Regions from separate parts of the Homo sapiens genome. Here region 2 is linked to region 1. Evidence: fine-mapped expression QTL. Tissue or cell type: whole blood. Region 1 holds a variant in brackets; the other region holds the start of a gene. All regions are shown on one strand. Distances are from middle to middle.

Region 1 (8,107 bases):
GGTAGACCTTGAGGTCTGGCCATGTCATTTGCTAGTTCTGTAATCTTGAGCAAGTGACTTAACCTTGCTGAGCCTTGGCTTATCTACATGTGAAATGGGATGACTAAGTTCTAGCTCATTGTGAGAATAATGTAAGATAACAATTAAAAAGCCCTTAACATAGAACTAGATACTTATAAATGTCAAAGCTCCTGAAGCTAGCTGCCAACAGTACTACTGTGATTTCAAAGAGACATTTTATAAGTAAGCACTTTTTTTTCAGGGCTTCCTTCTGAACTCTCCCCAGCTATTGAGGAAGAAGAGTCAAAGAGTGGCTTAGATGTCATGCCTAATATTTCTGATGTGCTGCTGCGCAAACTGCGGGTCCACAGGAGTCTCCCTGGAAGGTAAAATCAGGATGTGGGTTACAGAAGGCCCTGTACCGAGTGGCCCCTGTGTTGGATTCTAGGTGGGACACAGAGGAACACCAGTCTTAATTCTTGAACCCAGAAGGGCCAAAGTCCAATTGTCTAGATAGGGATAATGCATTCGAAACAAAAAGAATAATGAAAGGCCAGGCTGGGTGTTTTCAACTCAAAGGCCAGGTGGGGTTCTTAGGTGAGCACAGTTCATGAAGGCATAAGGGTCACCAGAAGCTCATGGCAGCAGAGAATGGGCTTTGAGCCAGGAGACATGGGTTTCAATCCCAGATACACCATTTACCCATGACTAGTTAAGTTTTCAAATATTTTTTTGTAGAGATAGGGTCTTGCTATGTTGCCCAAGATAATCTTGAACTCCTGGCCTCAAGTGATCCTTCTACCTCGGCCTCCCAAAGCACAAATAACATTTAAGTAACCAAATGAATGATTTGAAAGAGTAAAGTTGGTAGAAAGACCATAAAATAGGGCACATCTAGAGAATGACATGAGAGTGGGGCATTGGGTAGGAGGTCAAGGAAAGGCCTCTGTGATAAAGTAATAATTTGAGATGTGCAAATAACAAATGACAAAAAGCCACTCATGCAAGGGTTTTGGTAAGATTTACAGAGGAAAAAAATTGTAATTTTAACAAACGGTGCTGGGACAACTGGATAGCCACATACAAAAGAGTGAAGTTGGACCCCTACCTCACACAAAACACACAAATTAACTCATAATGGATCATAGACCTAAATGTCAGAGAGAACACTATAAGACTCTTCAAAGAAAAAATATAAGTAAATCTTCATGTCTTTGGGTTTTTTAGATATGGCACCAAAAACACAAGAGACAAGATTTTAAAAATAAATAGTACTTCCTCAAAATAAAAACTTCTGTGCTGCAAACAGTGTCAAGAAAGTGAAAGGCAACCCACAGAATGAAATATTTGCAAATCACTTATCTGAAAAGGAACTTGTTTCTAGAGCATATAAAGAAGGCTTACACTCAATAAAAAGATAAATAACCAATTTTTCAAAATGGGGAAAGGATTTAAATAGACATTTCTTCAGAGAAGATATACAAATAGTCACTTAAAAAAGATGCTGTGTCCTTTTAGAGGCTCACAGCTCTGCCCCCGGGTACCTATGCCCATTTGTAAGGCACAGTTATCTGCATCAGACACCAGACATACCATGTGGCTTCTCTGCCTAAATCATACTTCTCTGAGTCCTCAGAGTTTCCCCCCAGACCCCCACTTTTTTTTTAAGGTGGGTATGTTCTAACTGGGTGTGGTGGCTCATACACCTGTAATCCTAGCACTTTGTAGGCTCAAGGCAAGAGGATCACTTGAGGCCAAGAGTTTAAGACCAGCCTGGACAACAGAGTGAAACTCTGTTTCTACAAAAAATAAAAATAAAAAATTAGCCAGGTATAGTGGCATGCACCCATAGTCCCAGCTACTCTGGTGGCTGAGGCAGGAGGATTGCTTGAACCCAGGAGTTCAAGGCTGTAGTAAGCCACCTCTGCAGTGATCCTGCCACTGCACTCCAGCCTGGGCAGCAGAGCGAGACCCTGTCCCCAAAAATAAATAAATAAAATAAAAATAAGGTGGGTGTGTTCTACAGCAAAAAAGCAGAATGTGAGTCATTGAAATAGAAAAATGTTTGGTTTATAATTTATGAAAATATGTGCATTTCACATAATATCCCAACAAACCCAGGAGTCAGAAACAAACTTGGCAAGTTTTGCCAAATCATTTAAATCATATGTGTATGCTGTAGATGACAGTTAAGGCAAGGGCCTGATGGGTGGGGTTGTGACAAGGACTGTAAGTGTCAAACATCCCTGCAGCTGTTTGTCCCGTGTTCTGGACTCCGCTGACTTCATGGCCATGGGGTCTTCTCATCCTGACAGGAAGGCACTCATATCATTCCCTAGGGGTGAGAACCAGCCCCCTGCAGAGATGGCTGACCCCTACCTTTGCTCTTGGGGTCCCTTCACACCCGTTCAAGAGAGGAAGCTGTGTTTCCTGAGAAGCTTATTGATGGCATGCTCTGTTGCCAAGTTCTGTGACGCTGGTAGGACCCCTCCCAGGCCTCCCCGCCCCAGCACAGGAAAGGGCCTGTGCATTATTTACATTGTGTGGACTTCAGATGGGGCCAGCTTTAGTTACCAGCAAGAGCAGCAGCCACAGCAGCATCGAGTGGACATGCAGATGCAGGGACTGCCTATAGCTGGAGAGCCCTGGCTGTGGGAACGCCACAGACGAGGAGCTGCTCAAAAGGATGCCTCTGTGTCGGCTGGGGCTTTCTTGCCACTCTGTGATTCTAGCCATCAGAAGTTCTTGCTGTGGAGAAGAACCCTGGTCACTCTCTCCTACCATTTATTCTCTGGCCCGCATGCACCTTTGTCACAGCCCTCAGAGACAGAGGAGGGTGAGGCTTTGCAGACCTGGGTGGATATCCCCAGAACAATTATAATGGCAACTTAGATGTGTATGAGTTATAAAGTCCTTATCACATGCATTTTCTTATTTCTCACAGCAAGGCTATGAGTTCAAGGTCACATTTCCCGAGAGCCCACTGAGTGTGGATGCCATATATTTATGCATACAAACACATACACATACATACATGAGTACATATAGTGCTTATAATACCTCTGCAAGGTAGGTGATATGATTCCCATTTTGCAGATGAGCACGCTGGGGCTTAGAGAGATTAAATAACTTGTCCAAAGTCACAGAGATAGTCATGGTGCCGTAAGAGTCAGTATCTCACAGGTGACAGAGCACAGGCAAGGGGACATTGCATCTTTTCCTTCTCACCAACACAGCTTACTCCACCCCTGGAAACACATGGTCTGCTGGTCATTCAGAGTCACCTTTGGGTCTATTGACTAGGTTGCACACAGTTCAATTGTGTGTTTTCTTTTTCACAGTGCCCCTCCACTCACTGAAAAGGAAGTTGAGGTAAGTGACTCAAGTGTGTTATGAAATTTAGTGCCCGTGCTTGACTGGGCTTATTCAAAACATTTCTTCCTCCAGACTCTAGCTCTGACATTTTTAGACAAAAATGAGAAAGAGTGACTGTGGGGTAATGTGAACATTCATGACCAGCCCTCTTGAACCATGAGATCCCCATTCCCACGTCCGTTCATGGAAGATTTTGACAAATTTGGGCAAAAGGGAGAAGGTAGTTGGAAATTTTACATTCCTGTAAGGATTGTTTATATTCTTTAAATGTACGACTTAGATACACAAAACCAGCTGGGAGGCTGCAGAATTGAATCAAATTTATTTCAAAATTACTGAAAAATGGTCAGATTTCAAGTTCTAAGCTTTAGTTTAGTGGGAAAGGGGGCTGGCCTCCTCAGGGTTTCAGCTACAAGAATGCCAGCTCAGCGGAGCCGGGAAGCTGTGCTGTCAGCAATCCAGCCTTCCGGTTTCCTCACTGGGGCCTCCTTGTCCCAGCGGGGTTGTGAGTGAGCTGAGGGGAATCTGCATTTCATTCTGTAGCGGACAAAGAGAACTTATCAGAGGTGAGACA[A/G]TGAGAACTGCTGATGTGGACCAGATAAGCAGAGGAAGACAGACAGTATGAAGTATCTACCACAGGTAGTATCTATAACTTGCACACAGGCATTGCACTTGCAGTCTATAACACACGCATAGCCATCCTTTCAGCTGATCCTAACCAGCAGCTCTGAAAAGCAGGTGGAGCAGGAATCAGCACAAAGGAGAAAACTGAGTGAGTAAATAACCACACCAAGTTTCTAGATACTGTAGTTGGCAAAACCAAGACCTAGATCCAAGTGTTCTCACTGAATTCAGAACTCATTGTGTCACACTGCTGTTAAGGGGATAATCAAGGTATAGAAAATTAAGCATTGAGCATTATTCATAGACTTGACCAAGGCCGGGTAAGGCAGAAAATTTCTATCACTGGGCTATGAGCTCTAAGCCTACCCACTGACATTTGTGAAGATGGGCCATGGGCGGTTTGTTTAATGTCCAAATGCTGACCGCAGATGTATATGGACACAGCTCTCGGCATGGTGGAAATAAAACAGGCTTTCAAATCAGACAGTCTGAGGTTAAATCCTGGCTCCGTTACTCCGTGTCACCTTGAACAAGTTAATGACCGTTCTGGTCTTGGCCTCTTTACCCATAAACAGGTATAACAGTTCCCACCCCAGAGGGTTATTGTGAGATTACATGAATTTGTAGAATGAAAAGCAGTGCTGGCATATAGTAGATGCTCAATAAGGAGTAGTTTTCAATATTGCCTTCATCATCATCATTGGGTCAATTCTGTACCTTCAATTCTTCTGGAGATGACTGCCTTCCATGGGCCATGTTACATGAACTTCAGAAGCCCCTGTGGTTACTAACCCTGCAGGGTATAAATCTGCTACCACTCAGGGCAGATGATGGCTGTAAAATTGAAGACCATTGCTTCCTTCCTGAGTGAGGTCCATCTGTCTATTTCTTCTCCCTAGTAGTTTCCTACTGTTCTGGGAATTCCATGTATGACCAATATTATCTTTTCAAAGTCTGTTCATGCAGGCTGCAATTTTAGCATGAAACATTTATTTATTCCAGAAAGCTTAACCGAACAGAATCATACCTGGCCTTATTTAATCTCCTGGCAGCTACTTAAAGCTTCTATCAATACAGGATTTGGAATACTCGGGCTAGATGCTGATTGAAGTTTGCTTTACGTCAACAATGCTTAAATCTCACATGGAGTTTCTTTCAATACAGTATTTTCCTGCAAAATCTCCAAAACCCCTCATGCAATAAATCCCAGCATAAATCCAGATGCTTACACAATTAGCTGTACTGGCCTGAGTTTATCTAAACCCAGATACAGGATGTTATTTTCTTAAAATTCAGGAAAAAGCAAAGTGTTATTCTCTTCTTATTTTTTGGTAGAATACATTTGGACCTCCGGTTCTGGGAAGGGCCTAGCGTGGACCTTGGTCCCTGCTTTACCATCTTTTTTGTGGTTTCCTGTGAAGTGAGCGTTTCCCTTGCACATGGCTGCTTTGGTGCTTTGGCGGCTGTTCCAGGGGCCGTTGCAAAACGCTCGTGCAAGGAGCACAGCTGCAGCCTTGTCCTCTGCAGTAACTCCTCCCAGCACCTCTCTCACACCCTTGTTCCCAACAGAACGTGTTTGTGCAACTGTCCTTGGCCTTTAGAAATGACAGCTACACTCTGGAATCTAGAATTAACCAGGCTGAAAGGGAACGCAACCTGACAGAGGAGAACACTGAGAAAGAACTGGAAAACTTCAAAGCTTCCATTACGGTAATTGTGGAGCCTGATGTGAGGAATCCCTGGAGCAGAGACTGTCCCCAAGGGCCATACAGGGTGTCATGCTTCTCTCAGGTACCAAGTATAGTCTCCTGAAGTGAAAAATTGAGCCAAGACTCTGACAGTGTTCCTCAGAGAGTTGGGGGGAACTGAGGCAGAGATCCCAAAGGCCTGGTTCCCTCAGGGCTGTGGACAGGTCCTCCAAAGCCTTGGGAGCTTCTCAGAAGGGGGCAGGGTGGCCTGGGTGTGACTCCTACTTTCAGGCGCCAGGGATAGCGTGTTCACATTGGGCTTCTCCAAGCACCAGAAGAAACTGTGGCCCAGGCCCTGCAGAGGCCACTTCTCTCAGCCTGGATGGGGCCCAGAGCTGCTTTCATGAGAGCTGAGTCTAGGCTTGGTGTGTGTCTTAGTCAGTTTGAATTGCTGTAACAAAGGGCCTTAGACTGGGTGGCTTAAATGGCAAACATTTATTTCTCATAGTTCTGGAGGCTGGAAGGCCAAGATCAGGGCACCAGCATGGTCGGGTTCTGGTGAGGGCCATCTCTGGCTTGCAGACTACCACCTTTCCATTATATCTTACATGGTGGAAAGAGAACAGAACTCTCTGGGGTCCCTTTTATAAGAGCACTAATTCCATTCGTGGGGCTCCACTCTCCTCACCTAATCACCTCGCCCAGGCCCCACTTCACTATCACATTGAGGAGTTAGGATATGTCCCCCCAAAAGTCAGCAGATGACTTTGTGGGGGGCACAGACATTTAGCCCAGTGGTCCGCATCCCCTGGGCCAGGCCGCAAACCGGTACCAAACCATGGCCTGTTAGGAACCAGGCTGCACAGTAGGAGGTGAGCTGCCTGAGAGCATGACCTCCTGAGCTCCGCCGCCTGTCAGATCAGCAGCAGCATTCGATTCCCATAGGGTCACGAACCCTATTGTAAACTGTGCATGCGAAGGATCTAGGTTGTACCCTCCTTATAAGAATCTAATGATCAGAGGTGGAAGAGTTTCATCCCCAAACCATCGCCCCCACCAGGTTTGTGGAAAAATTGTCTTCCAAACCAGTCCCTGAGGCCGAAAAGGTTGGGGACTGCTGATTTAGTCCATAACATTATTTGAGGACCCCAGGTGATGCTCCTACTCCTGTTCAGTCCTCAGCTTCACTCTGGCACCACTGTGAGCACCGGGAAACCTACCAGAAGTTGCTGGAGGACATCGCTGTCCTGCACCGCCTGGCTGCCCGCCTCTCCAGCCGAGCTGAGGTGGTAGGCGCCGTCCGCCAGGTGAGTCTCTCCAGCCCCCGGTCTTGCCAACTCTGTTCCACCTACGTAAAGTAGAGCAATCACCCAAGCAGCGGCAACTACAGATACCACTTAGAGGTGGCTTCCTCTGGGCCAGGCATCCTATGCACATCATTGCAGTATTATTCAGAGTATTTTTGGCAGATCACTGAACCCTCAAGGTGCTTTGTGGAAAAAGGTTTCTGTGGACGCACAAGTTTGGGGACTACTGCATACTATCTTTCTTTCTTGGAAATTTCTAACACATTGGCCTAATCAAGGCTTTGGTAACTCCTGTGGTGGAGAAGGCTGGTTCACTTTACCTACATAGTTCCCAAACGTATTTAACTGAAGAATTCCCCCCACAGCTCTCCATTTTATTTTTCTCAAAAAATACCTGTTCAACTCCCATGGAGCTAGTATTTGACAAAACATACTTTAGGAAAACCTGCTTTGTCTCATTAAATCCACCCAGCAACCCTATAAATATCCTGTCTCCCAGATGAAGATGCAGAGTCTCAGAAAGTAAAAGCGTTAGTGGCGGAGCGGGGCACAGGCCCAGGTCTGGCTCTCTCTTGGCCACTTTGAAGTCCTGAAGCATACAGAGCCCCGCCCCGGCCCCCCATGTTGTAGCAGGAGCACATTGCCCGAGTTCTAATCCTGGCTCCAACCTTCATTCGCTGTGTGACCTTGGGCCCCTTACTGAGGTTTCTCTGCTTCAGTCTTTTCAAGTATAAAATGAGGATGGTCACAGTATCTGCCATAGAGGGTTGCTGCCGTACTTGTAAAGCATTTGGATGTTGTTATTATGTTGCTATGACATGAATCTATGTCCTGCTGCTCTGGTTACATGAGAGGAGGTTCCTGGGGTGGTGCAGCCCTGAGCAGTTCCTATTAAATAAAAGAAAGACCTGTCGCTGGGCCATCCCACCCTGTGTCCTTCAGGACAAGGACATCTGACTCAGCAGTGGTGCCCAGGAAGTCACTCCAGCTGGGAGCAGCAACACGGGAGGACTCTAGGGAAGTAGCTGGTCTCAGCCACGCATGACTGTGGGACCTGTTCCTGCGAAGCCACTGGGTGTGTCCCTCTGTGGCCAGGCAGGGCCTGAGCTAGAT
Region 2 (8,107 bases), 37 kb after region 1:
AGCAGCCAAATGCCTCCTCATTTTATGGAGTTGAATTACAGTCTTACCCCAACCCAGAATTAGATGCCTTTGGATATATTAGTGCATTCCAGAACCAAGTCAGAGGTCCCCAACCCTTGGTCGTTATACTATGGGCTACCTCACAGGGGCTGGATCAGTTCCTCCTCTTCCCTTCCCCATTCCTGATCCTGGTTTCCTGTATCTTCCTGGTCTATGATTTTTTTAATTAACACAGTTTGCTGTGATTGAGTCTGCTGAGTTTTTAACCAACCTGATTTCCACAGCTGAACTATTTTTGTCTTTCTTACAGCTAGCTGCAGGGGAATGTGGACTTTCCAAATCTAGTTCCCTAAAAATAAACTCTCCTGCCCAATACTTCACACCTTTTTTTACTCCCTTCTCTGCCTACCAAAGCCAGAGGATTCAGATGAGAACACTGAGACCCGAGAAAATGGCAGAACCACTAGACGGAAGCTGGGTCTTTGAATGAGCACTCCCAGTATTGAACTGTGACATGAATAAGAAATAAGATTTTAGTATATTAAGCCACAGAGATTCCAGGATGTTTATAGCAGTTAGCCTACCCTAATGCATACATTTGAACCAGAAATTGTGTACTTTAATAGCAAAATTCCAAAATATGAGGTTCTAGCTTACCAGTTACATGGCAAGAAACAAAACTGCTAGAAAGATGGTAAGATAGTAAAGTCTTACCTGTGATAACTTGGAAAGCATCTCATGGTTAGCCTATTTATAAGTGGTGGAAAGAATCAGCGTTGGGGTATGGAAACTTCTCTTGGCTGCCTTTGGCAAGGTATGGCAGGAGAAATAATTGGCTATGTGGGAGCAAAAATGAAAAAGAATATAGAGTATTCAGAAATGTGAAAGATTGAAGGGTGAGAAAACCTGACCACTTCTAAATCCCAGACAGACTAAAAAGAGCTTTGAGTGGGAGCCAATAAAATTTCTCAGTTGAACAGATCGACTCAGCCTTATGGCAAAGGCTAGATTAAGGATGTGGCCCTTTGTGAGTTCAAATGAACTTAGTGTATTCACCACTAAATTTGAGGGGTATGGTGCTGAGAAACAGGAAATACTTCTTGAGAATTATGACTGGGAAAGGATTTGGGGTATGATTATTGGCACATGGAAGCAGAAATCTAACTTTGTGAGGGAATTTACAAAGAAACACAAGCCAGGACTAAAAACCCCTTTCATTGTTCAGGTGAGGAAACAGCTTTGAGGAGGAAAGAAAATATATCAGAGAGATACCTGCACCCTCATGTTTATTGCAGCAGTATTCACAATCGCCAAGATATGGTATTAAAATGTGTCCAGCAACAGATGAGTGGATAAAGAAAACATGGTGTACATACACAACGGAATAGTATTCAGCCGTAAAAAATGAAATCCTGGCATTCACAGCAACATAGATGGAAATGGAGGTCATTATGTGAAGTAAAATAAGCCATGAACAGAAAGTTAACACCACATGTTCTAATTCATGGAAGCTAACAAAAGATCTCATGGAAGTAAAAAACAGAATAGAGGATACTAGTGGCTGGAAAGGGAAGAGAGGAGGAAAAGACAGATTTGTTAAAGGACATAAAATTAGGAGGAACAAGTTATAGTGTTTTATGGCACTATAGGATGACTATAGATAACAATAACATATTTTCAAATAGCTGGAAGAGAAGATATTGAACACCCCCAACACAAAGGATAAATGTTTCAGATGATGGATATGCTAATTAGCCTGATCTGATCACTACATCTTGTTTGTATGGAAACATCAAAATGTACATGTGTATAATTATGTATTGATTAAAAATAAAATTTTTTTAAAATTAAGAAAACTTTTGGGATCTTAGCTTATGCCGGCAGGAAGCAGACTGCAAAAGCTGTGCTATTCCCAAGGAAGGCATACTCCCTAATATCCACTTCAAATGTGGACAAGCAAGATTATATGCAAATGAATCTCCCAGAGGGATGCAAAGGGCCGCAGAAAACAGTGGATGTGGAAGTTTCTCTCAGAAAGCAGATCAGAATCAAATCAAGGTTAAGTGACTGTGGAAGGCAGAATTTCTAGAATAGCCCTCCAAAGATGTCCCACCCTAATCCCTGGAGCCTTTGAATAGGAGCTCCAGGGGTATGGAGCTTTGTTGTGTTACATTAGATGGTACAGTTGACCTTAAGATAGGGAGGTTATCCAGGTGGGCCCATGAGCCCTTAAAAGCAGACAGCTCGCCGGGCGCGGTGGCTCACGCCTGTAATCCCAGCATTTGGGAGGCTGAGGCGGGCGGATCATGAGGTCAGGAGATCGAGACCATCCTGGCTAACACAGTGAAACCCTGCCTCTACCAAAAATACAAAAAATTAGCTGGGTGTGGTGGCGGGCGCCTGTAGTCCCAGATACTCGGGAGGCTGAGGCAAGGAATGGCATGAACCCAGGAGGCAGAGCTTGCAGTGAGCTGAGATCACGCCACTGCACTCCAGCCTGGGCAACAGAGTGAGACTCTGTCTCAAAAAAAAAAAAAAAAAAAAAAAAAGTAGAGAGCTCTGCTTGAGCCCAGGAGGTAGATGCTGCAGTGAGTCACGATGGCGCCACTGCGCTCCAGCCAACAGAGCAAGACCGTGTCTCTTAAAAGAGCAGAGAACTTTCTCTGGCTAACTGTAGAAGTGAAAGAGAGACTAGAAGTATGAGAAGGACTCAGTGTGTCATTGCTGCTTTGAAAATGGAAGGGCTCTAGGAGAAGAGAATGGTCCCTGGCTGACACCCTGCAAGGAAACAGGGACCTCATTCCCACAACCTCAAAGAAATGAATTCTGCCAACAACCCAAATGTGCTTCGAAGTGGATTCTTCCCCAGAGCCTCTGGGTAAGAGCCCAGCCCAGCCAGCACCTTAATGTCAGTTTCGTGAGACCCAGGGCAGAGGACCCAACTGAGCCCACTCAGACCTCTGACATATAGAAGCTGTTAAATGATAAATGAGTACTGTTTAAGCCGCTAAGTCTATGGTAATTTGTTGGACAGCAATAGAAAGCTGGCACAGCGACCTTTCTAAGGCCTCTTCATTGGTATTCCAGAAATTCTATGGCTGGTGATCACTGTGACTCTCATTCTCCTCCTTGACACAAAGCCTTGCCTTCCCTGATTCATTCTTCCCCTTCCTGTCTTCCTTCGTTCTTTTTGCAATAAGTGAACAAATGCTAGAAAGCTAGCTCTCTTTCGGGCATGGTGTTAGGCTTTAAGAATAATCATGAAGAGGCCAGGACTCTGCCTGTCTGCCTCCCTGGTGCTGTGATGATAGAGTCATGCATGTTTCTGAGAAACTGGGGCTTGTGCTCACCCAGATCATGAGGTCGGTATTGGAGATGTGTAAGGGCTGTTACCCTGGTCTTTTAGAAGTTCCCTGCATTTGTTTAGAGCAGATTCTCTTTTTGTTATTGATATTTTTCACACAAATATCTAACTTTATGACCAGTACCACTTATATAAAAAAGAATTCGTTATCCATATACTTTTCCTATAAAAGACATTCATTTTGGAAAAATCTCATAAACCTTTGCCCAAGACATTGCTTACAAGCCAGAACTCCATAATTACCATGAAGCAAAAACCACTGAAAATCCGGCTGGAAAAACATAGAATACACTCTGCTGGTACACAGCACAGATAAACCTCATGTTCATCGAACAACAAAGGTGGAGTCTGACTTGAATTCTGGCCTACCAGAATATGAAAGGAGTTATTAAGAGAAAGTTATTTCATAAAAGACCCCTGTGGTGATTACTATTGTAAAGTTAAAAATCCTTGGGGAAAGTGTAAAATGTTTAATTTTGTAAATTGCCCTCCTACTTGTGTTATGTAAATGTGAATGTTTATATGTGCCTGGTTTCTTTGAAAAAGGAATCACCTGTAGTGGTGTAGAGATTTCAAATGTGTAAAAGGAGACTCAAAGGAAGGCAGAAGGTTCTAGACTCAGTATTTAAGTGGACATTTACTTTCATGAGCTTCAGCATCATACCCTGCAGATCACAAGGCCGAACAGCTGGGTGGAAAAATCACTGATTGCGGGAGGAAAAGAGGCACAACCTATGCTCAGTCTCCTTTAGGGACAGAGATGTTTCTAGGAGTACATAAACGATGGACTCCACAGGCAGTAACAGTGAATGGTGTGAGAACTGAGCTGCTGGGGGAGGAGGAACAGCAGGGAATATGGGAATTGGGAGAACCTTTAGCAGTTCACACTGTGCTATCTGCCTTCCTCATTTGTGTGTTTTCTGAGTCAGCATTAGCTAAATTTTCCAGAAGGCCATCCACAAAGTACAGCCTGGGCGTTCAAGGGACGTCATTCATTTCCCCCAGTGACCTTGACAAGTCAGAAGCTTGAAAGCAGGGAAATCCGGATGTCTCGGTTATGAAGTGGAGCAGTGAGTGTGAGCCTCAACATAGTTCCAGAACTCTCCATCCGGACTAGTTATTGAGCATCTGCCTCTCATATCACCAGTGGCCATCTGAGGTGTTTCCCTGGCTCTGAAGGGGTAGGCACGATGGCCAGGTGCTTCAGCCTGGTGTTGCTTCTCACTTCCATCTGGACCACGAGGCTCCTGGTCCAAGGCTCTTTGCGTGCAGAAGGTAGGTTTCTCACCAGATTTCCAAACTGAAGCAAGGCTTCAGTCCTAAGCCTCCTAAGCTGTTGACTATGGATTTCTGGGAATGAGGGTGACCCTCAGTGTCAACAGCAGGTCTAATTGGTGGTACTGCTCTGCCAAAAATGTACCACCATATTGTCAACTTCACCAAAATGATTGACATTTACGTTTGTATCATCTGGACTTTTACTTTTGGTTATGGAATATTTTTAATGAGGACATTTTGAAATAAAACACTGAAGAGAAACCATTTGATTTTTACTCTTTTTTGTATGGGTGGTATTTAAATTTTTTGTAGCAATGGGATCTCGCTTTGTTGCCCAGCCTGGTCTTGAACTCCTGGCTTCAAGTGATCGTCCTGCCTCAGCCTACCAAAGTACTGGGATTGCAGGCATGAGCCACTGCATCCAGAAGTAATAATTTTTTTTTAAGTATTTCATTGAAGACGCAAACCATGATTGTAAAAAATTTAAAGCAATCACTAAGCTTGGGAATAATGGGTAACTTTCACTAAAATTGGCCTGTTTTTATGTTTTTTGGGAGTGTTAGCATAATTATTTTAATTTTGATTTTATCATACCATGAATGAGGTGCAATGTTTTAAAAAAATATTCAGTAAATAGCAAATTAGCTGAAAAAAATCTGTAAAAATATAAGTTTGAAAATTAAGCCATCGGCTGTCTACTAAAGGAATGACTTAAAGTGATCGCTGGGCTTTTGAGATGCCTAAATGGAAACCTCATTTTGCACTGTAGGCAAAAAAATTGTAACCACAAATCACTCATTGCAGCTCTGGGCAAATGAAAATCTGAGCACTTTAATAGGAAAATGTGTGTTCCTATGCTGGAAGATGACCTGAGATATAAAATATGCTAGAAACAGACATTCAGAGTTGATTTATATGTTGTTGCATTACATTTTATAAGAAAGGTCAGAGTTATATGATTAGTTTTTTAAAATACTGTTACTTTCAAATAAGTTTGGTCCTCTTTGAAATCCTCTGGGGAGACTATTTTTCCCCACAATGCTGCCATTATTCAAACTATTGGACACTGTTTTTTGAAAATGACTCCATCACACTCTGGACTATCCTCAGCAAGGGAAAAAGATTTTCTAGGGAAATTACATTTTTGGAAACAACCAAAAGTCAGCATAACCATGACTGCAGAATAAAGTAGTTGATGAAGGTAAGTGAATAGGGGTGGGAACTATATTTGAGGGCCAAGTATATAGTGATCCAGAGCTAGGTGTGTATATACAATTTCATTTAATCCTCTCAAAAAGACAGTTTATAGGTGAAGTGACTTGCCCAATGTCATGCAGGCAGTACATAATAAATATTGGGTTTGAATTCAGCCCTATCTGATTCCTAAGCATATGCTATTATCTGATTCCACATCCTTATATCTAACTCCTAAGCATACACTATTTCTACTATGTTTGCTGTTTCCTGAGAAATCTTAAGGAAGGAGTTACTGGAGTACTCCCTTAAATTCCAGCTCCCTCTTTTGATCCCTAAATGAAATAGGAAAGCATAAAATGACTAATGTTGTTGACTTCCTACTGGGCCCCGCCTCTGCTAGGTACAAGTTATCTAATTTAATTCTGATAAAAATCATGTGAAGAAGATATATCCATCCCCATTTTCAGATGAGAATGCTGACTTGCCTGATGTCGCAACAGCCAGTTAACAATAGAAAAAATATTCAAAGCTAAGTCTATCCACCTAGAATAAGTCTATCACTCCTCTAAATAATAGTATTTAGAGTACAAATGACATATGATGAGAGGGTAGTAAGACCAATTGATAATGTGACAAATAAACCTCTGCAATCCATTCCCAAAGAAGTAGCTATAAGAGACCTGAGCAATAGCAAGCTCATGAGCTAAAAGAGCCAAATTTCAGAGCAAACGGTGTGTTCAGGGAGTTCAGCCTAGGGGTGTGTGTGTGTCTGTGTGTGTTCATTTCCTTATAGCACTGTGAAAGGTAAAACAGTGTCATTGTTAAGAACTGGGGGCCGGGTTGGGCACGGTGGTTCATGACTGTAATCTCAGCACTTTAGGAGGCCGAGGTGGGTGGATCACCTGAGGTCAGGAGTTTGAGACCAGCCTGGCCAACATGGTGAAACCCCATCTCTACAAAAAATACAAAAATTAGCTGGGCATGGTGTCTCGCGTCTGTAGTCCCAGCTAGTCAGGAGGCTGAAGCACAAGAGTTGCTTGGACCCGGGAGGCAGAGGTTGCAGTGAGCATGGATCACGCCACTGCACTGCAGCCTGGGTGACAGAACGAGACTCTGTCTCAAAAAAGAAAAAAAAAAGGGCCAGGCACAGTGGCTCACGCCTGTAATCCCAGCACTTTGGGAAGCCAAGGTGGGTGGATCACCTGAGGTCGGCAGTTCAAGACCAACCTGACCAACATGGAGAAACCCTGTCTCTACTAAAAGTACAAAATTAGCCAGGTTTGGTGGCACATGCCTGTAATCCCAGCTACTTGGGAGAATGAGGCAGGAGAATCGCTTGAACCCAGGAGGTGGAGGTTACAGTGAGCCGAGATCACGCTATTGCACTCCAGCCTGGGCAACAAGAGTGAAACTCCGTCTCAAAAAAAAAAAAAGAACTGGGGTTCTTGCTTGGCCATACTGGTGCACACCTGTAGTTCCAGCTACTCAGGGAGGCTGAGGTGGGAGGATTGCTTGAGCCCAGGAATTTACGACCAGCCTGGGCAACATAGCAAGATCCATCTCTTGGGAAAGAAGAAGGAAAAAAGAGGAACTGGGGTTTTAGAATCAGGCATAATTGAGTGTGTGCTCCTAATCTGCCACCACAGCAAGGTTCATATGGAGGACTTAGAAATGCTCCTTCCATGTTTTCAAAAAGAAACTTCCATTAGATATCAACCTAGGAAGTGGTCAAAGCATTTGACTGAGCATCCAATACACAGAGCTGCGTACAAGCAATTACTTGAGAGATTTAAATGCCCTTTTATGGATGTTTGTGGATGAAGCCCAGTAGGAATAATGTATTTGAATACAATACAACTTGGCAATTTTATACAGGTCTGTACATCCCAGAACCCAGAGAAAAGGGTTCAAAAGAATTCCCAAATCCATTAGATTTTGAGTAGAAATATTATTCATATCTTACCTATTCAACAGCCTCAGCTTCTGTGGGGTAATCAATCATTAGCAGACCAAAACCAAAATGCTTTAACGATAATGATAATGTTATGTGGATTTATTAAGCACCTACCATGTGGCAGGCACTATGCTAAACATTTGTATTAGAATTTACTCACTTAACTTTCACTACCCTATTCAGTAGACACTGTTACTCCCTTGAATTTATAAACAAGGAGGCTCAAAGAGCTGAAGATTAAAGAGATGAAGTATCTAGGCTAAGGTCACAGAGCTAGCAAATGACATATGCTAGATCTAAGCCCAAGTCTGACT

Evidence for each region. PIP is the estimated chance that this variant, and not a neighbour inherited with it, causes the effect.
Region 2: LYVE1 starts here. The variant in region 1 is fine-mapped to the expression of LYVE1 in whole blood (TOPMed, PIP above 0.99).

Annotation. Positions count from the first base shown.
Region 1 is chr11:10,602,007-10,610,113 of GRCh38, reverse strand. IRAG1 (inositol 1,4,5-triphosphate receptor associated 1) reads left to right here. Exons shown (of 21, transcript NM_130385.4): 11 at 263-386; 12 at 3,342-3,372; 13 at 5,569-5,709; 14 at 6,863-6,994. Among named protein-coding and RNA genes, the nearest start is that of LYVE1, 37 kb to the right of the region's middle. RefSeq lists enhancers at 3,678-3,972, 3,698-3,992. The variant A/G (reference allele first, on the strand shown) is at 3,950.
Region 2 is chr11:10,564,980-10,573,086 of GRCh38, reverse strand. LYVE1 (lymphatic vessel endothelial hyaluronan receptor 1) reads left to right here and starts at 4,422. Exons shown (of 6, transcript NM_006691.4): 1 at 4,422-4,639. The coding sequence starts at 4,555. The region is part of intron 1 of IRAG1-AS1 (IRAG1 antisense RNA 1); the gene reads right to left.